3 separate regions of the Homo sapiens genome follow, and regions 2 and 3 are each linked to region 1. The links come from fine-mapping of genetic effects on gene expression. A gene starts in region 1. Each other region holds a variant in brackets. All regions are shown on one strand. Distances are from middle to middle.

What was found. PIP is the estimated chance that this variant, and not a neighbour inherited with it, causes the effect.
Region 2: its variant is fine-mapped to the expression of AJAP1 in whole blood (TOPMed, PIP above 0.99).
Region 3: its variant is fine-mapped to the expression of AJAP1 in whole blood (TOPMed, PIP above 0.99).

Annotation. Positions count from the first base shown.
Region 1 is chr1:4,650,536-4,658,708 of GRCh38, forward strand. AJAP1 (adherens junctions associated protein 1) reads left to right here and starts at 4,074. Exons shown (of 6, transcript NM_018836.4): 1 at 4,074-4,919. The coding sequence starts at 4,891. RefSeq lists an enhancer at 2,065-2,114.
Region 2 is chr1:4,706,538-4,714,710 of GRCh38, forward strand. It overlaps AJAP1 (adherens junctions associated protein 1), which reads left to right. Exons shown (of 6, transcript NM_018836.4): 2 at 5,363-6,162. Among named protein-coding and RNA genes, the nearest start is that of AJAP1, 56 kb to the left of the region's middle. RefSeq lists enhancers at 2,472-3,384, 3,835-4,453, 4,454-5,070. The variant C/T (reference allele first, on the strand shown) is at 4,444.
Region 3 is chr1:4,732,448-4,740,620 of GRCh38, forward strand. The region is part of intron 2 of AJAP1 (adherens junctions associated protein 1); the gene reads left to right. Among named protein-coding and RNA genes, the nearest start is that of AJAP1, 82 kb to the left of the region's middle. RefSeq lists an enhancer at 1,432-1,932. The variant C/G (reference allele first, on the strand shown) is at 3,716.

The DNA.
Region 1 (8,173 bases):
AGCCAAGGAATCCCGTCTTCCTCTCTCTGATGCATGGGTACACTTTCACAGGCAGTTCAGACCTGGCATTTTCTCTTGCCGGCCAGTGCTGGGCTGCAGGATGATTGTCTTGTGAGTCATTTTGTGGGTGGGAGTACAGCTTCTTGGCTCCCACCTCTGCCCCAAGGCTTGGTCTCTGCCTTGCGCTCAGCTATGCGTGTAGTGCAGCTGTGTGCAGCCTCACCCAGGAAACAGCTCAGGTGCCAGGGGGAGGAAACCCCAAATCTCCAGCATATAACCTCCCTGAGAAGGAAAAGCGACTTTGCGTCACTCCCCCTGCCCCCGACAACCATGAGCTTCCTGCAAGTTTTACTGGGAGGGGGGTAGCCAGGAAGATAGGAGAGTCAGGGAAGACACTCCTGTGAATGCTTTCAAGAAACTTATAATAATTTTAATCAGCATTTTCCCTTCCATTTAAAATCACAAACTTAGCTACTTAATCAAATGTCATGGTTAAGACACATTTACCTCCTTGGGAGAAAAATGAACAATGGCAGCTCAATTTGGCTTTGGATGGGTTTTAAAAATAGTCAAGTCTGTGAAGGCCATTAGATAAATGGCCTCAGAGAGCTTCAAAGAGGACCTCCTGCAGGGGCCTGCTGGCTCCTTTGTTGGGAAAATAGGGGAGGGGACTAGGTGAGGAGACCGCAGGGGTTCCCCAGGGTTCCAGGCTGTGGACTTCCCCCAGCGGGGAGAAAGGGCCAGAATTAGCAGGGTGACCGGAAGAACTTTCCACAGCATGAACATCTGAACAGTTCCCTTTTGTATCGCCGAAGCTGGGAGGCGTGTGTGTGTGTGTGTGCGCGCGCACACGCGTGTGTGTGTGTGTGTTGGGTGGGAGTGACATACACACAGCTTCCCAATCCCCAAGGGAAGAAAAATGAACCAGTTAGAAATATGAGAGCCATCAATGTATAGAAAACCAGTTCTAGAAATGCTGAAATGCAAGTTAAGGTTTTGTCGTTTTACAGTCTGTAAAAAAAAAAAAAGACAATGATTTTGTCATCGAAATAATAATAATAAGCTGGGCGCGGTGGTTCAGGCCTACAATCCCAGCACTTTGGGAGGCCAAGGTGGGTGGATAACCTGAGGTCAGGAGTTCGAGACCAGCCTGACCAACATGGTGAAACCTTGTCTCTATTAAAAATACAAAAATTAGCCGGGCGTGGTGGTGCACACCTGTAATCCCAGGTACTCGGGAGGCTGAGACAGGAGGCTGAGACAGGAGAACCTGGGAGGCAGAGGTTGCAGTGAGCTGAGATCATGCCATTGCACTCCAGCCCAGGTGACAGAGTGAGACTCCATCTCAATAATAATAATAATAATAATAATAATAATAATAATAGGTGGATTGCTCTTTTTGGAGAGAGGCAGACCTGAGTTACCCTAGAGAAAAAGGAAATCAGTGTACCCTGGTCCCAAATCCTAATTTTAAGCCTGGGTGAGGGCAGAGGGCATCCTCCGTCCCCATAGACTGAAGAAGCCCTCACTCACCCGGGGCAGCAGCTGTAGTCTTAAGGCTCTGACTTCGCCTGGAGACTTCTGCAGGGCTTGTTCCCATCTCGGTTGTCAGAAAACACTTCCTTCTACTATTTTCTTTGTCCAGAGATTCCCAGGGTACTTGGATAGAATTCAAAGGGTCTTTCAACTCGTATGGGGGAAAACTGGCATCTTTATTTAACCCTAACTGAGACTTGGCATTTCCTTTCATTATCAATGTCGGTGGCAGAGCTCAGTGCCTGTGACCGTCAAACATAGAAAGCACTGGCATTTCCATATCACACTGCCATGGCTGCAGTTACCTCAGGATATTATTGCTGCATATCTGGACTTCAAAAGGAACGTAATTTAGGATCTGTCAATTGCTTACTAAGTGTATTAATAAATAATATATACGGCTATATCAGAAATTTGTTTTTATTACTCTTTTGATAATGCATTTGCATAGAATTGGTTTCCTAATAATCCTGGGCTTTTTCATCTATGCACTTAGAAGCCATTCTGAGAGAGGTCAGCAGGTGTCCACAAGGCTGCCCAAGGGGTTCCTGGAGCCGACACGGTCCGGTCCGGAGCCCCTCCCTGCCCTGCTGGCTCCTAGTGTGCGAAGCCGGCCCCTTCCAGGCCCACTCCGGTTGCAGGAAGGGCCTCCCTGGTGCAGCACCGCCTCCTCACACCGCTAGGTGGCAGCACTGCCGGCGCCTCCTTCCCCGCCGGCCGCCATAGGCCCCGCTGGTTCCAGGACCTCCCTGCCTCCTTCGCCTCTTAATGGGATCCGCTCCCTCACACCCCTCAGGGAGAGGCTCTAGGGGACGATGACCCAGGGGCGGCCCGGCAGGGAAACTGCTGAGTCACCCTGCTGCCTCTCGGGTCCTCTGACCGGCTCACAGATCACCATAGCCACAGTGTGTGTAAGGCCTTCTCATGGAGCCCTGCAAACACCTCCCCGGGGAGGGGCTGTGGGACCCATCTTACAGATGAGGAGACCGAGGGTCGGAGAGGCCACACAACTCGGCCAGGACCCCGAGTTAGCAAGCGCTGGCCCCTGGTCCAGCCACGGCAAGGCTGGCCCTCCTGCCACCACACTTCCCTGCCTCTGGCCCTCTGCCGGGAGTCTTGGTGGGGAAGTCACTGTCTTCATCCTCCTGCCCGGGCAGAGTCCAATCCTGTGCCTGGCTCCTCAAGACCGTTGGCAAAGATCCTGGAGGCCTGGGGGTGAAAGGGCTGCTTGGGGGACTTAAGCCCCAAGCTATGGTTCGCCTGGGAGACTGAGCCCCAAGCCATGGTCCTCCTGGCTCTGCCCTTCCACCCCCTCACTGGCTGCCCCTCCCAGGGAGGCCTCACCTGTGAAGTGCTTCCCGCCCCTCTCACCCCCCACGGCTCTCACATGGCCTGGGGCGATTCCAGAGCTGGCCTGGGTCAAGCACCTGCACAGAGCACAGAGCGAAGGCTCGGCATGGTATATCCCCCGCCCCTTGCACCTTTCCCCAGTGAAGGGTGGCACCAGTGTCCTTTCCAAGGCCCGGATTCTGCACTGCCCTCAGCCTGTGGAGGATTAAAAGCAGGGTTTTGCCGTGGTTTCTCAAGGCGTCAGCGGGTCTGCAGAGGATTCCGCCCCATGTCACTTCTCTCAGTGAAAGGTCCCCGCCCAGCGTCTGTCCTCCTTTAAGTGCCCCCCATTTGTTTTTTGTTGTTGTTTTTGTTTGTTTTTTGCAAATACAGACTAACCAGGTAGGCACAGAGGAGTCCTGGCATGGGAAGGGAGCAGTGAAACGCCGGTGGAGAGTCCGGGAGGCCCAGATTCCCTGGAACTTTCCAGTGACTCCTCCGGAGCAAGGGCCTGGCCAGGCAGCAGCTGCGCTGGGCGATGAGGGACCGTTGGGTAATTGGGGGCATAGGACCGGGCTTCGCTGGGTTCGGGGCAGAAGCGCCGAAGCTCCGACCCGGAACGCGGTGACTTCATCAACGCAGAAGCCCGCGCAGCCGAGCAGAGGAGTCCCTCGTAGGCGACCCTCGGACAGACGCTCCTGCGCGGCCCGCGTGGCTCAGCTCCGCCCCAGGAAACTTTTCGCGCAGCCCCCGCTCCATGCGCCCCCACCCAGTCCTTCTTCGGGGCCGCCCCCTCCCCAAAGTAGCTCTCCGGGTCCACTGGGCGCCCCCGTAACCGGGTCGGAACCTCGAACGGCTTCGCGTGCCATCCGGTTACCCTGGCAACACCATCCGGCGGCGCCCGGCGGTCCAATCCTAGCCTGCGGCCTCTCTCGAGCCTTTCGCAAGGTGGGGACCGGGACGCGACCGGGGATGGGGAAGGGGGCTGCAGGAGGCCCCGCCTGCGCTGTCGCCCCTGCTGGGCACAGCGCCCCCCACCACCCGCGGCGACCCCGGCCCCCGCAAGGTGGGGCGGCGAGCAGGAGCCGGGGCCAGGCCAGGGGCTCGAGCTCCCGTTCGAGGGGCGGGGAAGGCGGGTGACGTGAGCCGGGCCGGGCGGGCGGAGTTGGGACCGGCTCCGGGAGGCGGGGGCGAGCGCGCGGAGAGGCAGACGCGAGGAGGGAGGCGGCTGAGCAGCGCGGGCGGCTCTGCGGCGGGCGCGGTGGGCGCGGGCGGCGGGGCCCCGGGATCCCCGCGCGCCTCCTCCGCGCGGCGCCGCCGCCGCGCGTCCCCACGCCCCGCGCTCCACGGCGCCCTCGCCCCGCGCGCCTCTCGTGCCCGCCTCCTGCCAGTCTCCGGGCCGCGGCCGTCTGCAGAGCGAGCGCTCAGACGGAGCCCCCGGGCAACTTGAGTGGCGCCGATCGGCGGCGGAGCCTCTGGCAGAGCCCCCCGACCCGGCAGCGCGGAGGGGACTCGCGTCCGTCCGCGTCGCGTCACCCCAAACCCTAAGCAGCGCCGCCCCATCGGCGCGGAGCTCCGGCTGGAGGCAAGAGCCGCGCGCCGGGAGACACGCACCGTGAGCGGCAGCGCCGCCGGCCTCCCTCCTCGCCGCCCCGGAGGGCGAAGCCGCGGCTCCCCAGCCCTTTGCTGCGCCGCGACAGCGCCGGAACACGCCCCGCCTCGCTGCCGCCTTCGCTGTGCCGCCGGCGGAGGGGGCCGCGAGCCCCGCGCCCCGGCCGGAGGATGTGCGCCCCCGCGGGCCGCCCAGCCTGAGCCATGCGCCCCAACGGCGGCGGCGCGCCGGCCGGCATGGAGCCCCGCGCGGCCGCGCTCTGACTCGCTGTGCGCCCCGCGGCCGGCGGGCGGCGGGAGGCGGCGGACCGAGAGCCGGAGACCGGCGCCGCGGGACGGAAGCGAGCGGGCGCGGGCGCCGCGCAGATGGCCTGGGCGAGCCAGGTCTGAGGCCCCGCTCCCCGAAACGTGACCATGTGGATTCAACAGCTTTTAGGACTCAGGTGAGCGACCCGGCCGGCGCCGGGTGCGTGTGGGCGCGTGGGTGCCAGGCTGGGCGGAAGCGGCGCTTTCCTCTATGTTGCAAATCAAGGGACCCCTCTTCGCTTCCCGCAAGCGGGCAACGGGGTGCACCGGTAGCCGGAAAGGGGCGCCCGCCCGGAGCCTGGAGCAGCACCGCGGCCCTGGCGGGGAGCGGCCGGGTCTCCAGGGTTCCGCGCGTCCGGGGTCGGGGCAGCGGCGCCCGCCCCAGCAACCCGGGAAGTGGGGCCGGCCAGGCGCGCCCGCAGCTCTAGGAGCCAGCAGCGCAGTGTCCTGGCCGGCTGCCCCGGCGCGCCTCCTCCCCGGGGCCCGGGGCGAGGCGCCGGCCGCTGGGCGCGGCGGGCGCGGGGGCCGGGGCTGCCGGGGAAAGCTAAAGCTCCGGGCTCCCAGCGAGAGCTTCGCAGGCGGAGTTGGAGGAAACCACAGCCAAACAGCCACTCCGCTCCCCCTTCTCCTTTCTCGGGGCCCCGGGGCTGAGCAGGGGCCTCCCAGGCTCCCAGCTGCCGACCCAGCTGTTTGCGGGTGACCTCCGGGCCCGACGGGCGCTCACAGCTGGCGGGCAGCTGGGGCGGGAGAGCTGGGGTTCTTGGGGAGCTCCGGCGGCCACCCCGCTGTAAACACACACGCACATACGCCCGCCGGCGCGCCCGGGGCTTGTCTGTGTCTGGGACTCCAGGGCCAGATGGAAGAGGGGGTTCGAGCCTAGAGCCCGTGGTGGGGGTGTCCAGAAAGACCCTTCTCGGCAAACTTTGCCAGCCCGCCGGGGTTCTCGGGCTTCTCTGGCTTCTGCCTGGGGTGGCCCAGGGCCCACCAGAGCACAGCTGTCGTTTTTGCTGGGCAGGCTGCCTCTGAGCCCTCGCCCTCCTGCCGGGGCATTCACCGAGCTCGTGCATTTGGGTCCCGGGTTGGAACCGCGAGCGGGGAGGACAGAGGTGGAGGCGGAGAGCAGCGTGCGGTTCTCGAGTTTGTCCACTGGGATGCACTGCGCTCCCGCGTTGGGGACGAAAAGGCCAGTAGTTGTTAGCCCGCTGCTTGAGCCGCCCCCACTCAGGGATGAAGCTGCGGGGGGAGTGAGGCGAAGGGAGGGAGGATCTAGTGCGTGTCCTGATTTTGAGAAATCGGAAGGGGACTGGGACGCCAAGTGTTTTCTAGCGACCCTTGATTTATGAGCCGATTCTGCTCCCAGAGGTGAATACTGTGTAACACATCTAGTGAACATTGTCAGATGTTATTATTAGCATCCCTTCTCTCAGTGGCCGATCTTGCTGTGGGCTTCAAAGGTTAATCATGGAGCCGATTGTGTTGGGTGTGGGATATTGGTCGGGCGTGAATCGATAAGTGTGCTTGGGCTAGATAAGGTTTAGGCTTGGACCGTTGTGGGATGTTGGCAAAATGGAGCGAGGACAGCTTTGCAGGAATGACCCTGATCCAGGTGCCCTGGAGGCCTGCCATCCCCTGCTCTGCCCCGGACTGTCCCAGGTCTCAGCAAGACCTTCCAAGGCTTTGTGAATGACCAGACGGGTCCCCACACTGGCCAGTGGCTGGTCTTCAGCTCCGACCTGCTTCCTGAGCTGCCACTTGATTCCTGATGGCAACTTATTTGAACAGACATTTTTTTTTATTGCTAAGTTGCTAGATTAAAAGATGAGTACATTTTGATAAAGGGAGAGAAGAGCAAATATCTTGGAAAGAAGCCTCTCTTTTGATTTGAAATTTACTAAAACAGTTCCTCTCAAGCATCCTCAAGCCGGATCTTGGGATTTTGCTTTAGGAAATAGTTCTGTTGGTTCTTTTGAAGTTTGACCTTTCGTTTTTCCCCCCTCGATGTCAGCACAGGAGATTTTCTGTAAGTGTGCCTTTAAGGACGAGCTGTCACCTATTTGGGATCCTGATGGGAGAGCTCTGTCTTGTTACTGCTGTCTCCTGGCCAGAGAAGGAGGCCTGTACCCAGAGGGTCTGGGTGGTTTTGCATCACAATGGGCACCTGGGGACTCTGAGCCAAAGGGTTGCAAGTTCAAGGTCTGGAAATGCACTTTTTCTTTCAAGACAGCCCTTCACCTTTGCTTGCAAGCCACTCCGCGGCTCCCTAGGTGAGCACTGGGCGTCTTGCTGCCAAGCTTGGAGCCTGGTTAGGACAGGTAGACACTGAGCCTCCAGCTGGGGTGGCAGAAGGCCTGGCTTGCTCCACCATGGGAGAGGTGCAGTGTAACTTGCTGGGCAGGGGGTGGGGGTGGGGGTGGGGTGGGCTTTCTTAGTTCCGGCCCCAGAGACGAAGTCTGGGCTTGGTTATTTACGTCTGTGTTGGAACTGAGCTGTATGTGGAGCTTTTTTTTTTTCTTTTCCCCCCAAGAGGGAGAAGCAGATTGAGACTTATTGAGCAGCTTTTGTGTCTTTTGCGGTGGCATTTAATAGTTGTAGCAGAGCTCCAAAGATACTTTCCATCAGCTGAGAGAGAGGGAGCCACGGAAGGAGACCCAGTGGCTTGACAAGCCCTGCCAGAGCTCACCCGTGGAGGAGGCGCGTATTCAGCAAGCAGCTCAGAGCTCACCCGTGGAGGGGGCGCGTACTCAGCAAGCAGCCCAGAGTTTGGAATTGGCTTCCTGGTTGTGAGTTGCTTCCCAGGCTGCAGACCTCAGATGCTGTGGCTTCCTCAGGGGCTCCGAGCGTCCACCTAATACGTTTGCTGGGTTGCGCTCAGGACTGTGATCCCTAGCAGAGTGCCACGAGCTCATTCCCAGCCCATGTCCCTGCGGCCATCCCATCTGTTCTCCCGCTCCAAGGTTCTGGGGCCCCTTTTGTTTGGGAGGCCCTGGGTGTGTGTGTTGACATAATTCACAGTTCCCCAAGCCCTCTCAGTGCGCGCTGTACCATGTCTGGGCCTCATGGCAGGGATCCATTGGCTTGGCTGTCACCATCCTCGCTGTAGAGTCCCCAGGCAGCTGGGGCTGTGCAGCCCAGCTTTAGCGGATGAAGTCAAACGCGCAGTCCACAAACATTGCGCTCCGGGTGAATCCTGGCTCGCGCCGATTTCCAGCTGCTGCTACTAAATTGATTGCAACTGGAATCTATCTAGTGTCAGCGGCTGTGCTACTCCTCGGGGACAATCATGCTTGACTAAACTGCAAATTTAGGAGGCAGCTCAAATCTTTGGGCAACATCGGTACATACCCCCCTTTCATGCTCACCCCCACCTTGGGGATACACTGGCCAAGTGGAG
Region 2 (8,173 bases), 56 kb after region 1:
GGCCACAGGCACAGCTCCAAGGTCCTGTCCCACCCTGAAGATTCTGGGCTGTTCCCCGGTGGAACAATTCCAGGGCCTGGCCTGCTTCTCACTGCACCAGTGCTCCCACAAGGCAGACACCAGCTGCTCCCAGGAGGCTCACGCCGCACACTCCCGGCTCGGGGAAAGGTGCAACTTTAAGTGGAAGAGATGTCTTTGGCCCCTTAATTGACAGTGATTTTCTTCTGTGAAGAAAATATACAGAAGGTAGTGAATTGAATCTCAATTCACCAAATCTTATTAAACTGTTCTTCGGGAAAAAAGATTTCAATAAAAATTTAAAAGGAAGAGAAGCAAGAAAGCCACAAACTAGAAAATAAAGTGAGACGGAGCAGTTGTTCCCCATTTGGAAGCAGCTGGGGAGCAGGGGGTGGTGGCAAGGAGTTTATTCTTTCTTTGAAAATCATGGGCTCGAGGCTGCTGAGAGGGAGCTGTCCCTGCCTCTTCTCAAAGGGTGTGGATGTGGTCCTCAGGTGCTCAGGCAGGGACCCTGTCTCACGTTCAGGGTGTCCCAGTGAGGACTGGGTGGATGAACCCAAAGTCTCCATGGCTTCCTCCTGCCCATGTGCCTGCAGCTCTGGGGGCCGCTCTGCCTTCCACCCATCCGCCAGGGCCAGGATTAGGGTGCCACGCCATGCACTCCACATTGTCCCCACAACCCTTGCACACACCCCATTCTCTAGCATGTTCCTTTTGATTTGTATTGGGATATACATTGCACAAAACTCACCTATTACAAATGTACAGTTTAGTGGGTTTTGTATAGGCATAGAGTTGTGCAGCTACCCCCACACACAATTCCAGAATATTTCGTCACCCCATAAAGAAACCCCCTACCCCATTACCCCTTCCCCAAGCCTTGGGCAATTGCTCATCTTTCTGTCTCTGTGGATTTGGTCACTCTGTGCATTTCCTATAAACGGAACCGGGCACCGTGTAGCCTTGAGTGCCTGGCTTCTTTCCCTGCTCAGGGTTTTCAAGGTGCTTCCACATTGTAGCATAGATCAAGTAATCCTGCCTTCCTTTTAAAGGCTGAACGATACTCCATTGTAACATTATGCCAGATCCCCTTTATCCATTCCTCAGCTGACGGGCACGTGAGCTGAGTCAGCTTTGACTGTTGTGAGTTGTGAGTGTGGCCCTGGGCCTCCCAGTGCAGGTTTTCATGTGGACAGATGTCTGTGCCTAAGAGAGGGGCAGCAGGGTCCCTGGAACTCTGTCTTTAGGGTTCCAAGGAATTGCCAAACTGTTTTGCCCAGAGGCATTCTGGTTTTCATTCCCACCAACAGCATACTAGGTCTCTCATCTCCTCGTGTCCTCGCCAGCACTTCATGTTCTCTGTCTTTCTGCTTGTAGCTCTCTCTGTGGGTGTGATGTGGGCGGTACGTTTTTTTTTTGTTTTTTTTTTTTGAGACGCAGTCTCACTCCATCTCCAGCCTGGAGTGCAGTGGCATGATCTCGGCTCACTGCAACCTCCGCCTCCTGGGTTCAAGCGATTCTCCTGCCTCAGCCTCCCGAGTAGCTGGGACTACAGGTGTACGCCACCACACCTGGCTAATTTTTGTATTTTTAGTAGAGACAGGGTTTCACCATGTTGTGCAGGATGGTCTCGATCCCTTGACCTCGTGATCCTCCCACCTCGGCCTCCCAAAGTGCTGGGATTACAGGCGTGAGCCACCATGTCTGGCCGGGCGGTATGTTCTTAAGGGGCCTGTGGATGCTTGAGTTTCAGGGGAGCTGGTGCCACTTCTGCCTGCCCCACAGCCTCGCCTCCTGATGGTTGGTGCTGTGGTCGGCAGCCATGCCACAGGGCCTGCCTCCAGAGGAGGTGTGGGGTCGCCTGCCATCTTGGTGCATGTCTGACAGTGCCATGGATGCCCTATGGGGTGAGGCCCTCCCGAAATCTGTTCATCATGAAATGAGAGGTGCTCAGGGCCAAGCCCCAGGCTGAGCAGGATCAGTGAGAAGAGTATTCCCAGGCTCTGCCTCATCTCAGAGCCGCCCAAGGGATGAGGACAGAGATTGTTTGTACTGCTCACTGGTCCTTGGAGATAGAGCCAAGTCCTCCTGCTGCAGAGATGCAGCCTCTCACCAAGGGGTCCCCAAGAGTCTCAGGACCAGGTCCGGGCAGCACACCAAGCTCAGCCGTCTTGGTGGCAATGCAGAGCCTGGGGCCCTTGGCCTTGCACAGAAATGAGCAGTGGCCCCTACACGTCTTCCTATGGGAGGGGCTTTCCCCCTGCCCCCCACATTTCTTGGCTGCTGGGAGTGGGCTGGGGCCTCTGTCCTGGTTGCCCACCTGCCCTCTTTTTTTTCCTCTCTGAACAAATCAATCACTTTAAAAAGGAAGAAACCAGACTTGAAGAGGAAAAACAAATCGACCTCTCCCTGCCACTGTTGCAATTGGTTGGTTTTTCTGCATAACAGCTGGGTGTCTTAGAAATGAGGGGGTTTCTATAGTAACCAATTACAGCCATGATTGGTGAAAAATCACAGAAATATCCTGTGTGTGAAGTTATGCCAGCGAGGCAGGCACGGGCTTAGGTGCTATGGTTTTAATTTCCTGGGGCAATATTTCTCTAAGTACTGATGGCAGGCAGGTTTGCTTGTCATGGCTTTTGATTCAGCCTGCCTGGTGGGGGCTGGTGGGGGCTGGTGGGGCCTGGTGGGGGCCGGTGGGGCCTGATGGGGGCCGGTGGGGCCTGGTGGAGTGTAGTGGGGCCTGGTGAAGCCTGGTGGGGTCTAATCAGGGCCTGGTGGAGTATAGTGGGGACTGTTGGAGTCTGGTGCAGTCTGGTAAGGCCTGGTGAGCTTGGTGGAGTGTGGTGGGGCCTGGTGAGGCCTGGTGAGGTCTGGTGAGGCCTGGAAGACCATGGCAGAGTCTGGTGAGGCCTGGTGGAGCCTGAAGGGGCTTGGTGGGGCCTGGTGAGACCCTGCACCTGCTCAGAGCAGCATCTCATCTTCCTGGGGCTAGACTCCCACCCAGCTCTGCAGGTCATGGGAGAATTAGAGATTCTAAACCAGCTCCCATCCTCACTGGGTCACCTGCAGCCACAGAGGAGCTACCTTAGTGTGTATATGGGGGAATTTCACCCTAACCTAAATTCGTCCTTGTGGTGACAGTGGCCCTGGTCCCTGCCCCGAGCTTGGCTGCTAGTGCAGAGAAATTGCACACCAGCAGAAACACCGTGCTGAGGATTAGCATAATGTGGAGGTCCTCATTTCTGCAGCAAAGCACTTCTATTCTGATTGAAAAACTGAAGCCTTATTGTTTGGGGATTAGTCCTTTTTGGTAATTAGCACTCATTAGCAAGAGTTTCTCTCTCACCATCCTGATGACTGGGGGGCCATCTGTTCCCCAGATATCTGGGAGAGTCAGCACCAGACACAAGGGTCTCAGTACTGAACAGAGGGCGTGCCCCCAGGGATGCGTTCACACACAGCTACAACTAAACTCTCCTACACAGACACACACAGACACACTCACACATAGAGTCTCTCACACAGACACTCACAGATACACTCGCATGCTCACACAGGGACACACAGATACAGTTGCACACACAAATACACACACAGATACTCTCACACAGACACACTCACACAGGAACGCACAGATACACTCATACACACTGACACACACGAGCATAGATGCACTCACACACTTCTATGCTGACACACATGGACACAGTCACACAACAGTACACTCTCACACACGCACCAAATACACACAGACACCCTGGCCCTCACTCACGCACAGTCTCTCACACTCGTGGACACACCCCCAGATGCATCTTTACACTCATGTATGCTGGCTCACTCTCACACTGGCACACTCACACAGCTTGACCCACACGCACACACTCACACCCAGTCACACACGTACACACTCACATACGTGTGCTTGCCTACACGCACACACTCACACACTTGCGTGCACGCATTACAATGACACACACAGCTTCCTTCCTTTGTGAAGTCACTCACCGCCTTATAAAGAAAAACTCTACCCAACCTGCTTTCCAGGCCTGGCTTTGGGCGGCGTCAGGCTGGCGCTTGGCACCTGAACACCCTCGCGCCCCCCACCCGCTTCAGTCATTACAGTTTTGGGATTCATTTTAACTTTCAGACGTGAGGCTGGTGACGAGAACTGACTTTGAATGACACCTATAATCAGTCTTCAATTATCTGTGCTGGTGGAAGAGGGAGCGTGGGCCTGGCTCCTCTGAGCCCTTCCACGTGGCTCTCTGCCGCGCCCTGGTTTTCATGTGACACCAGAGAGTCCACTGGTCCAGAGGCGACCCCAGACCTGGTGACAAAGCCGCTCCATGTGAACTGGGGAGGGGCCGCCCCGCCAGCCCTGACTTCTCCCCTGCAGCCCCGCTGCGTGGAGAGGCAGCCCCG[C/T]CCTCCTCAGGGTTGCGCAGGATTTGCCCTTTCTGCAGCCCTCCGGGGAGCTGAGGAGGTGGATAACAGGGTTTCAAAGGGCACCGGCACTGCAGATAAACAGGGGGAGCGGAAATGTCAACAGAACAGACACTTCGCGTCAATAAACTTTAGGTTTATCCGGAGCAGATCTCATTTCCCTGAGTACGATCCAGAGGAGGCCAGAAGTAAGAAGCCTTCCCATGCAGAGCATTTAAAGCGATGCCTGTTTACGATATGCATGCCGGGCTCTGGGTGAGGGGCAGCGGGAGCGGCTGGTGTTTGCAAAGTGCAAGTGCCTGGCAGGTGTAGGTGCTGGGAAGCGCCTGCGCTCACGCTGCGAGGTTTCAAGCTTGAAACCTCCGCTCCTCCTAGACCTGGGGAGAGGCGCTTCCCCAGTGGGCGGGGGGTGGCCTGGGCTATGTAGAGGAAAGCGCCTGGCCCTGGGGTCCCAGGTGGAGGCCGGTGTCCGCTGCTGCCATCCTCTCACTTACGTCCTCTCGTCGTGTGATGGGCAAAAGGAAGGAGGGACTCACAGGTCTTTTCAGGTTATCTTGTCGAGGCTGCCCTGAAAGGCTGGGGGTTTCTGAGGCTCGGTTTTCGCTCGCGTGAAATGGACTATTCGGCGACCGGCCGGCTCTGTGCCTGGCAGGCGCCTCAGCCCCGCGGTGCCGGGAAGCAGCTCCCCGCACCCTCGCAGCGCGCGCTGTTCTTGCACGTGAGTGAGCCTTTGAAGGAAAGGAAGGAAGGGTTTCGGATTCCCTTTTGAAGTTAGGAGGAGCTCTTTCCAGAAGAAGAGAGCGTCCTTGTCACAGCGCGGGGTGGAGAGAGAGGGCCCCGGGGCCCAGTCCCCCTCCTGGGCTTCCACTGACCGCTCTTCTCTCCTTTCCCCCCCGCACAGCTCCATGTCCATCCGCTGGCCGGGCCGCCCCCTCGGAAGCCATGCCTGGATACTGATAGCCATGTTTCAGCTCGCCGTGGACCTGCCCGCCTGTGAGGCCCTGGGCCCGGGGCCGGAGTTCTGGCTCCTGCCGCGGTCGCCGCCCCGGCCGCCCCGGCTGTGGAGTTTTAGGAGTGGACAGCCAGCGCGGGTCCCGGCCCCGGTGTGGAGCCCCCGGCCGCCCCGAGTGGAGCGGATCCACGGGCAGATGCAGATGCCTCGAGCCAGACGGGCCCACAGGCCCCGGGACCAGGCGGCCGCCCTCGTGCCCAAGGCAGGACTGGCCAAGCCCCCAGCTGCTGCCAAATCCAGCCCTTCCCTCGCCTCTTCGTCCTCGTCCTCGTCCTCCGCGGTGGCCGGTGGGGCCCCGGAGCAGCAGGCCCTCCTGAGGAGGGGCAAGAGGCACCTGCAGGGGGACGGTCTCAGCAGCTTCGACTCCAGAGGCAGCCGGCCCACCACAGAGACTGAGTTCATCGCCTGGGGGCCCACGGGGGACGAGGAGGCCCTGGAGTCCAACACATTTCCGGGCGTTTACGGCCCCACCACGGTCTCCATCCTACAAACACGGAAGACAACTGTGGCCGCCACCACCACCACCACCACCACGGCCACCCCCATGACGCTGCAGACTAAGGGGTTCACCGAGTCCTTGGATCCCCGGAGAAGGATCCCAGGTGGGGTTAGCACAACGGAGCCTTCCACCAGTCCCAGCAACAACGGGGAAGTCACCCAGCCCCCAAGGATTCTGGGGGAGGCCTCAGGTACAGCCATCTCTCTTCTGGTTTGGGTTTGCTTGGGGTTGAGGGCTGGGAGCGTGACTCGGGAGAGATGCTTAGATGTCCCTGGGTGATGCTATGTGTGGAGGCTCCAGGAGATGCAGGCGTGATGTGTCCATGAGCTTGCACATGCCTGTAGACTGGCAAATACAGGCTGTGCCTTAGAGGAAGGGGGCGTGAGAAGGGAGAGTTTCCCTTTTTAGTATGTACCTAGAAGTGGGCGCTGCACCCCTTGTGCCTCTGTTAGGGACCAGCTGAATCCACCAGGTGCTGCAGCCCTGTTACAGACCGGTGGAATCCACCACACACAGCCACGCCTTCCAGAATCAGAGAATTTTGTCTCTGGGGCCGGCCCTTGAGCAAGATGCTTGCCCGTCTCGTGATACAATTAAGGATCCCCCCGCCCCAGAGTCTTCAAAAGCCTTCAAGGGTATGGGACCCATGGACGGGGGCATGGACGGGGGCAGGGTGCCTGCCAACTTGACCTCGGTAGAGGATTAGGAATGGCCTTAAATAGCAAGAAAGGCCGAGGCTGGGTAAAAGGAAGAACTTCCTGCGGTGTTAACAGAACCTTCGCAGACAGTGATTCAGGTGGCACCTTTCGGCTCCCTGGGGATGTGTCAGGAGGGTGTTTGGAGGACGGAGATCAGAACAAAGGGCTTTGGTTCTTCTGCTGCTGTTATCCTAGCTGCCTGTGGACACACACAGTTCACTGGCTTTGGAATATCTCCTTCTGTGCAGTTTTGTTGTTTTTTATTTTCCTCCTATACGCTGTCCTCCATTTGCTTTGAAAGGAGTAGCCCTTGGAAATCTCCCAAGCCAGGGCTTGTCCCTGAACTGGTAGCCTGCACTGATGTCACCAGGCTTCACAGCAGGCCTGCGGGGAGAGCGCAGAGCCCTGGGCACCCCGTCACCCTCACCTCCCTCCAGTTTTCTCTGCCTCTGTTAACAGGCACAGCCCGATGTGCCAGGTTGGCTCAGAAGTTCACAACCTAGATCTGTGCATACACATTCTAGACAAACAGCAACATTTGCTAACTTTAAAATCGGATGCAGATTTTAGGGCGTCAGTACAAAGTGGGCGGGGGCGCCCTGTGGCCTCCTCACAGCTTGCTTTCCACAACCTCCAGCTTGTGGGCTCGGTAGGCCCCACCCAGGCCTCTGCAGAATCAAGGGGAGGGAAGAGAACTGCTCTTCAGAGCTCATGTGCAGGCGGCCGGCATGGCATCCAGGCCCTCTGCGTCCTCACTAGACTGCGTCCTGGCCCTGGTTCCTCCTCATCTTGGGCAGGCAGGCACCGGGCAGTCCTTGGACAGGTTTTCATGGGGTGGGTGGCTTTTGTCCTTCAGCCGGTGACCTACTTTCTTCCTTCACCTGGACAAGAGAACCTGCGGTTTTTTTTCTGAGCTCCTCTTCCCTAGAGAGCAATGTCTCTATGGAAGCACAGCCTGGGCTCCCTGCGCATGCTGAGGGCCATGCCCAGAGATGGAGGCTGTGGGCTTGGGAGAGGCTCTGGAGGAAGAGGCTCCGGAGGAAGAGACTCTGGAGGTCCTGCATCGGCTTCCTCCCATGCAGCCTCTTTTGGGAATCCACGGACATGCGGGGTCTGCAGCTCATCCTGCACTGTCAGGCGCCTGCTAGCAGTTTACAGAGTGTTCATTTTTACCTCAGTAAACTCAGCAGCCATCATCATAGTAGGATTTCTTGCTACTCTCCCTTACTGTCACCTCCTCTGTATACGTCACTTACTATATAGACATGGATGAGGAAACAAGTTCCCATTTATTCCAAATTACATTTGTTATTACTAAAGTTAAACACCCGGGACAGCGTTGTAGGCTTAGCAAATTAATTCACAGTGCATTGGATGTTGCTAATCCATCTCGACAGATGCTTATCTTGGAAGCGATTTATGGTTCTTCATAATATAATCTGGTGCTAGATTAATTTGTTTAGCAAAACAAATCTAAAAAGAGGAAAATATGTGTGTTTGTTT
Region 3 (8,173 bases), 82 kb after region 1:
GCTTTGCCCTCCCACCTTGGGCCCCCTCCCTCACATGGCCTGCCAGCTGTCCCTCAGTTCTCTGAGCCCCAGAGGCCCAACTTGGGCTCCTTCGGGGGCCCCCAGAATTGCACTCTGCCTACAGACAGCCTCTCAGTGCTGTAACTTACTGTCAATGAGAGTGTCCCTTGTGCCAGGCCCCACTGTGCCTGTGCAGGCAGGTGAGAGCGGCTTCACAGCAACGCAGGAGTGAGGGAGTGAGGGTGAACCCCTGGCCCTTCCGCGAGACCTGGGGTGAGTCACAGAGTCCAGAGCCTCAGTGGGCTCCTTAATACAATGGAGATGATCTTCCACACCAGGCCTCAGTCAGTTCTCCAGACCAGAGAGGTGAGAGAAGGCTTAGTAAGTTACAGTCTGCTTCGAAAATTGGAGCTGTTTCTTTTCTTTCCCCTGACGCTCTTGGGAGATCCTTGGAGGAACTGCGTCTCCAAATAGACATCTTAGCTTGGACTTCTGGCTATGGCCTCTTGGGGTCCAAATTCCCCACAAATGAATGAAAATAGGATTTCTGGACTCTTCTTTGCCCAGCAGGGCATTTCAGAATCTGTTTGGATTGAGAAAAATTAAGAAGCTGTTAAAATGCTTATTTTTGCCTCAAGAAAATTTTGTGGGATTTCCTGCCCCGCCTCCAACAAAGTGGGCAGCCCCCACCCCAGACCCCCTTCTACTCTTAGAATTAGGGCTGGGAAGGTAGCAGAACCCCCAGGGCTTGGCTCAGGGTTTTCACGTGATTTTTAAAATGCAATGCCGCCTTCAGATGATCTGCATACCCAAGACGTCAGTGTCACGGGGAGCCGTGGGTCTGTGCTTCCCCAAGGCTGGATGGCCCCAAGAGTCATCACTTCCAAAGCCTGGGTTTAGAACCCAACAGAAGCAGGTCACAGGACAGCGAGAAGCTGCCCAACAGAATCTCATTCGCTTGTTCACCTGTTCAACCATTCATTCATTCATTCATTCATTCAGCTGACCAAAGTATCTCGTGTGCCCAGGGCTGTGCTGGGAGTGGGACCCTTCACAGGCAGCCAAATCAACTCAACCCCTGTCCTCACATGGCATGCAGTCCAGTGGGGAGCAAGTCCAATTGCACAGCCGTCTTCCTGTCCTCAGAGGCCCGCCCTCCTTGTTCTGGAAGAATGGGATGTGGAACACAGATCCTGCTCCGAGCGCGGGAAATCCCAGCGGGCCGGCCTTGGGAGGATTCGGTTCATCCTGACCCATCTCTGACCTGGTCCAGGACAGCCCACCCCTCCCCTTGTTCTCCTTGTGGGCAGGGATAGGAGAAGGCCACTGTGACTTGTGCTATTTCCCAGAGACCAGAGAAAATTCTGGCATTGTGAGCTGCCCACACGCCGTCGTCTGTGTCAGAGCCAGAAATAGAACGCAAAGAAGATTCTTGTTCTGATTTCTGTGCTCATAATTCTAGGGCAAGATGCCCTTATGAGATGTGGATCAAAGGAGGTGGGGGCGGGGGGAGCTGAATGGAGCGGTTCACGCGAGGTGTGTGCGTCGCGAGCAGGGCCCTTGCCGGAGCTCCAATTAGCGGCTTTTGTAAGCGATCACGTACCGAGTATTGACTTGGCTCAGCCCAGGAAAAGCGAGAGCGATTTGCAAAAGGCCCCTTCAATCATGACAATTAAAATCCAAATACAGACCTGCCAGGGCCCTGAACCCATGCACTTGTTCTGTGTGGAGGAAGAGAGGCACCCGCTCAGATGCTCCTTCTTAGATGAAAGGAGTGCCTCAGCTGAGCCCCGGAATAGGAAGGGCCTGCCCTACTGAGCCTCCTGCCTCACTATTAACAGCGCTGCGTCCATACTGGGAGCCAGGTTCTGACAGCTGACTTGAATTAAATCTCATAAGGCCCACAGGACACACGTCCTGGGAAGAAGGCATTCCTCTGATCTTAAATCAGCAGAGGCAGAGGCCCCGAGAGGTTAAGTGACTTGCCTGAGGTCACACAGCCTGAAGGGGGTGGAGTCAGGATTCAAACCTAGGTTCCAGGGATGGTGTGTTGACAGCCTGCACTCATCTGACTGTATCTCCTTCAGTCTTCTCCACCATCCCTTGGGCGTATGGTATTTTACAAAGTAGGAAGTGGAGACAGGGATTAAGGAGTCTGTCCAGGTCTGCCCATGAATGAATGTCAGGCCTCGTCACTGCAGGAGCTCGGACTGCACTGGATGGGGCTGGAGTGGCACCTGTGGGCGATGCTGAATATGATGCATGATCTGTCTTTCGGGTGTTCTTGGAAGGAAGGAGAAGGGCAGCACCCAAGAGGGGTCAGTGATGGTGGCAGGGCCAAGGCTCTCACCTTCCCCCGGACAAGGTTTCTAAGGCCCGGGAAGCATCTTCTGCTTCCGAGGCCCGAAACAGTGGCGTTTCCTCTTCCCCGAGCACTCAGCCTCCATCTGGCTTTCTGTCCACCGGCACAGATGGCAATGTTGTTTCTCGACTCCTCCGTCCATCGCCTGCAAGCTGAGCCGCGTGATGGAGCTCAGCCTGCAGCAGCCGTCTTCACCTCAACTTCCCTGGGAGCCGTCCTGCTTTGCTTACACGTATGAGCTCCGCGTGCTTGGCGACCCTTGAGGGTGATAGAGGGCCGGGTAGAGGGGCTTCTCTTCTACACCTGGGTGAGCTCCGCACCAGCGGCAGGAGCACACCCTTACAAAAGCCTGCCACAGCACGCAAGGCATGGTGGGACCAGGCCTCCTGGCTGCTAGAAGAAGACAAGAAAAGCATACTGGGCTGAAGTCACTTCAAAAGCTGGTCACAGCAGGTCTTTTCTTCCGTGACACTCACATAGGGGAGATGGGGAGAGAAGTCATCCCTGGAATTCCAGCCTGGAGCGTGTGGGAGGGAGGGTGCGATGTGCATCAGTGGGGTGAGAACGCCTATTGGGAGAGGGGACCAATTTGGGCCCCAGGTTTGGGACTCTCCTGGTTGAATGTCTCGCCCATCCAATTTTGCAGGAAAGGAGCCTGGTATGCAGGCTCAGCACCCACTGCACCGGGTGGGCAGCTTTATTCTGCCTGTGGCACTGGCCTAAGAGCTCAGAAAGGTTTAAAAAGATAAGACAGCCCACTGAATAGCCAGGGACATTCAGGAGGCTGCACACGGAGGTCTCTCCTCCCAGGCTGCCTGCTGTACAGTGGGCACCTCTGCCTGCTGTGTGAGGTGTGAGGTGAGCTCCTCCCTGCTCCTCTGCTCCCTGAAGCCCTACCCTGGCTTGACTCATGCAGTGCAGCCATCTGAGCCTCAGTAAGCCCCTCGACAAGCTGCCGCCTCCTCCGGGGTCCCATCTTCCTGAAAATGGGGCACAGCCCCTGTTACCCCTGCCTCTGGCCTCGGAGCTGGCTCCCCTTCCCTGTGTCACTGCAGCTCAGCCCTGGGGCCCGCCTCCTGAGGGTCTCCACGGTGATCTTCAGCCTTTGCCATTGCTGGTCAGATTGAGGGGAGCAGAGCTTAGAGGAAGAGGGTTGGCGCTGAGGTTCCTTAAGGCCCCAGATCAGCTCCCTACTTGCTACAGTGGCAAGCTGCCTTACCTGCGCCTTACTTTCCTCATTTGGAAAACAGGGGTAAGAAAAATGCCAACCTCCCAGGGTTGTCAGGAGAAAAAGTTAATGTTTGTAAAGGGCTTGGGATGTGCCCTGGCACATGGTAAAGGCTGCAGAGGTGT[C/G]CCTGAGACCGTTGACAGAAATAGTTTTCACATAGTTGCCCCATCAGTTCTCCTAAACCACAGCTCTGATGTTGCCCCTCGCCTGCTCAAGAACTGTCATTGGCTCCCCACTGCCTACCCCAAGAAAGTTCAAGCTCTCTCACCTCTTTTCCAGGCTGTGACCGCCTTCTCCCTTGGCCTCCTGTTGCCCGCTGCGCTGTGCGCAGCCCTCCCTTTCCCACGGTCTTGGCTCTGCCAGTCACATCTTACCCCCTCCCAGCTCACTCTGCTCCAAAAACACCAGCCACAAGTACTTCCCCTCCCACACATCTTCCTCTAATCCTCTGTGGCCAGCGATAATCTCTTCCTTCCTCAAATGTTCATGCTGCCTTCCTGGTTGTATTTATATGTATAAATAACTGCAAAATAGGATTAAAAGTGAGGCCCTGACTCCCCAGTGAACCTGCAAGCTCCTTCAGGCCCGAGCCTTGATGTGCTTTTTGATTCTTTTTATCCTCTGTATAGCACACGGCAGAGCAATTTGCACACGTAGGGAGTTCAATATGTATTTATTGAATAAGCAAATGAAAATTAAAGAATAAAGAAAAGGCCTTGTAGCTCAAACCCCTAGTTATCCCAGTGTATCTGTGGAGAACGTGCGGGGGCCGCTGGTAAACTTGGAGTGCACAGCTTGGGTGGGCTGGTTGGAAAGAGGGCTTCTACATGGACCTGCAGCCCTAGGACTCAGACATGGGTCTCCAGGGCTGACTACTGGGGGTGGATTGAGGCCTGAGAATTCTTCCCTGCGGGGGCTTATTTTCATGCCCAGGTCAAGCAAGGGCCCCGCTTAATCCAGCCATCATCTAGAGAAAAATGGTTGAATGAACTAGAGCAACTCTCTGAATGTACTGGAGTTGGCACACTTGCATTGGGCAAAGTGGGAATTATTACGCCTGTTTGCAGCATCGCGAGCAAAGTGGGATGCTGTGTGAGAGCGTCCTTTCCCTGCCTGCAGTTTACTATGGGGCTGTGGATGGGCACCCCTGGGATGGGAAGGTTCTCACCAAACCCAGGCTGGGAGGAGGCTGGGGCAGAGCAGAGAGTCGGGAAAAAGCATGAGCCTGAGCCTGAGCCTGAGCCTGCCCCCTGGCTCTGCCGAGTCCCTGGACAAGCCCCCGTCACCACCCACCCCTCGGCCCCTCACCTCTCTCAGGGAAATGCCATAGCACTGATTACCCGGCAAGGATGGGGACCTGTGGGGTGAGATTTTTTTTTCTGGGGCTCGTGTTGGATTTCCTGGTGCAGCAACAGGACGCAGTGCAAGTGCAAGCAGAGACGGGAGCCCCCCCGAGACGGAAGCCCCCCGAGATCTGCGAGCTCATCCTTTCCTTAGGCCTCTGCATAGGCAGGGCCAGGGTGCCCAGGTCCCAGACTCCTGAGGCCCTTGTTGTGGGTTTTAAAGAAATTCTAGGCCAAGTGCAGTGGTTCACAGTTATAATCCCAGCACTTTAGGAGGCCTAGGTGGGAGAATCACTTTAGCCCAGGAATCAAGACTAGCCTGGGCAACAGAGTGAGACCCCGTTTTCTACAAAAATAATTATTTAAAATATTAGCTGGATGTAGTGGTGCATGCACCTGTGGTCCCAGCTACTCGAGAGGCTGAGGCAGGTGGATCGCTTGAGCCCAGAAGATTGAGGCTGCCGTGAACCATGATTGCACTACTGCACTCCAGCCTGGGCGACAGAGCGAGACCCTCTTTCAAAAAAACCAAAACCAAAACCAAAACCAAAACCAGCTGCCTTTTGCACCCATGGTTCCATGTGGATTTTGAAGAAGCCCAGAACTCAGTTTCACAAGAGCTGGTTAAACTCCAAAGGTGTGCAAAGCACCTGCCTGGGGGAAACAGCTTCCCAGGCTTGATTTTACCTGGTACTGAGTACAAATTTTACTCATTCCAAATGTTACACTTCTTGTCTTGCTAATGTTTCAGAAGAGTAATGGGACCCAAAGCCCAGGCGTCCTTCAAGCATGCAGCCCCCAGCCACATGGCAGGCCACGGCCATGCATGATGAGGCATGATCAACACAACAGGGGCCCTGCTCTCATGGGGCTAGCAGGCCCACAAGGGTGATTGTCTGGAAATTCACTCAAATAAATGCGTAATTGTCAACCATGTTGAGCAGACTGAGTCAATACACAAGATAGCATAAGAGTCTCTGCAAGAAGAATGTGGATTGACTGGGGAGTTAGCATGCGTGAGGGGCCTCTCTCTGAACAAGGGGAGGGTGATTAGGGGGTAGCTGGTCTGGAGCTAAGAGAGAGCACTCTAGGCGGGAGGGAAGCCAGCCCTAGGGCAGGAGTGGAGGTTGTTGGCGAGAGCCACTGGCAGGCAGATTTGGTGGGAAGGATTAGCACAGAGCAGAAGGGAAGAGTAAGGAGAGGGGGTGGGAGCCAGGGCAGGCCCCCCAGGCCATGGCAGCACCGCGGGGGTGTGCAGAGACTAGGAGAAGCCGCTGGAGGGTTTGAGCTGGGAAGCAGGAAGATCTGAGCTCTGTTCTGGAAGGGTTCCCTGGGCTGCTGGATGTAGGAGAGGCTGTGGGAAGCGGGGAGCCCTGCTAGGGATTCCACTCCAGGGGGAAATGAAAGTGCCTAGGACATGCATGGACAAAATGTGGGCGGAGGCCACCACTTGACTTGGCTCTTCCATGAAGGGAGGCCCCATAGGAGCAGGAGAACTCAGAGGAGAGAACCGCTGGAAGACCTGGGGCCCTGGCAGCAGGGCAAGGTGACCACTTAGGAGGAGAAGGAGGTGGGAAGGGCGTGGGGGCACATCTGGGGGTTTGGACACCAAGTTCATGTTGGGAATTGAGATGTGGGGGAGGCAGGGCCACTGCTTCTCCTCTCTCCCGGGAGATTGCATTTTCCATGGGCACCGGAATTCTTGGTGAGACTCCTGGTACCTGGAGCTAAATGACGCAGAAAACTGGTGGATGTCCCACTCAAACACATGTGGGAGAGTCTTCTCGTCCTGGGGGTGCCCTTCCACAACCCCACAGTAAACTGCAGGCGGGGAAAGACGATCTCACACACAGCATCCCACTTTGCTCACAATGCTGCAAACCTGCGTAATAATTCCCACTTTGCCCAGTGCAAGTATCGGCAGGCTTTGGGGTCTGCCGGCCTTGGAAAGTGGGTCCGTCCAAGCACAGACATCTCCCGTCTGTCGGCAGCAATGGTCATGCGACAGGCCTGGGAAGCCCACTGTTGGCAATGCATTTGGAATGCAGTCCACCCCCTACCCTCGTGTTAACTCCAGGTCTCCTTGCCACCTTCTGAGCTTTCTGGGGAAATAAGTCAAAAAGTTAATTTGATTTTGAACAGATTCTTAAATCAGTTCCCAAGAGGCAGAGATCAATTTGCATTTCATCTTTTCTTAGTCATCTTGGCTGGTATTTCACACGAGCTGTTGGTATTTTTCGTGTTCTCTCACTGCACAGAAATGACCCTTGGAGCATATTTTTAAAAGGAGAAAAAACCATCTGAAGAGGGGGAGGAGGCAGCAGGTTCTGTTTTTGGTTGTTGTTTTTTTTTCTGTTTTCTTTTGTACTTGTGATTTCTGTTCTTCACCACACAGCATGGTTGTGGCGGCCCTCACTTCAACGTTGAATTGTGTTTGGTTCTTCTGCATCCCTCCTAAAGTCTGAGGTTCCTTCTTGTGCCTTTGGCATCAGAGTGTCTGATAAGGGGCAGAGCCCACCCCAGGCCTTACCCATCATCTACTGAGAGGGCTTCCGGGATGGCTTCCCACCATGGTGGCCACTCCCCGTCCAGCTCACGACACCTCTCATCTTGGAAGGAGAAAGGACCTGACGGGGTGTATCTAAAAGAATTTAAAGCGGAGTCTCAGAGAGATGTGCGCATACCCATGTTCACAGCAGCGTTATTTACAATATTCGAAGTCACACCTCCCAGGTGTCCATCTATGGATGAGCAGATAAACAAAATGTGGTCCATCCACACAATGAAATATCCCTCAGCCTTAAAACCAAAGGAAATTACAGCATATGATACAATGTGGCTGAACCTTGAGGACATTCTGCTAAGCGAAATAAACCGGCCACAAAAGGACAAACTCTGTCAGATTCTACTCATATGAGGTCCCTGGAGTCACCAAATGCATAGAGACAGAAAGTCAAATGGTGGGTGCCAGGGCCTGGGGGAGGGGGATGGGGAGTGAGTGTTGATGGGGACAGAGTTTCAGTTTTGGGAAAATGAAAAAGTTCTGGAGTTGGAGGGTGGTGGTGATTTCCTGACAATGTAAATGTGCTTAATGCTGCCAAACTGTACGCTTAAAAAGTGGCTGGCCGGGCACGGTGGCTCACGCCTGTCATCCCAGCACTTTGGGAGGCCGAGGCGGGCAGATCACAAGGTCAGGAGATCGAGACCATCCTGGCTAACATGGTGAAACCCCGTCTCTAC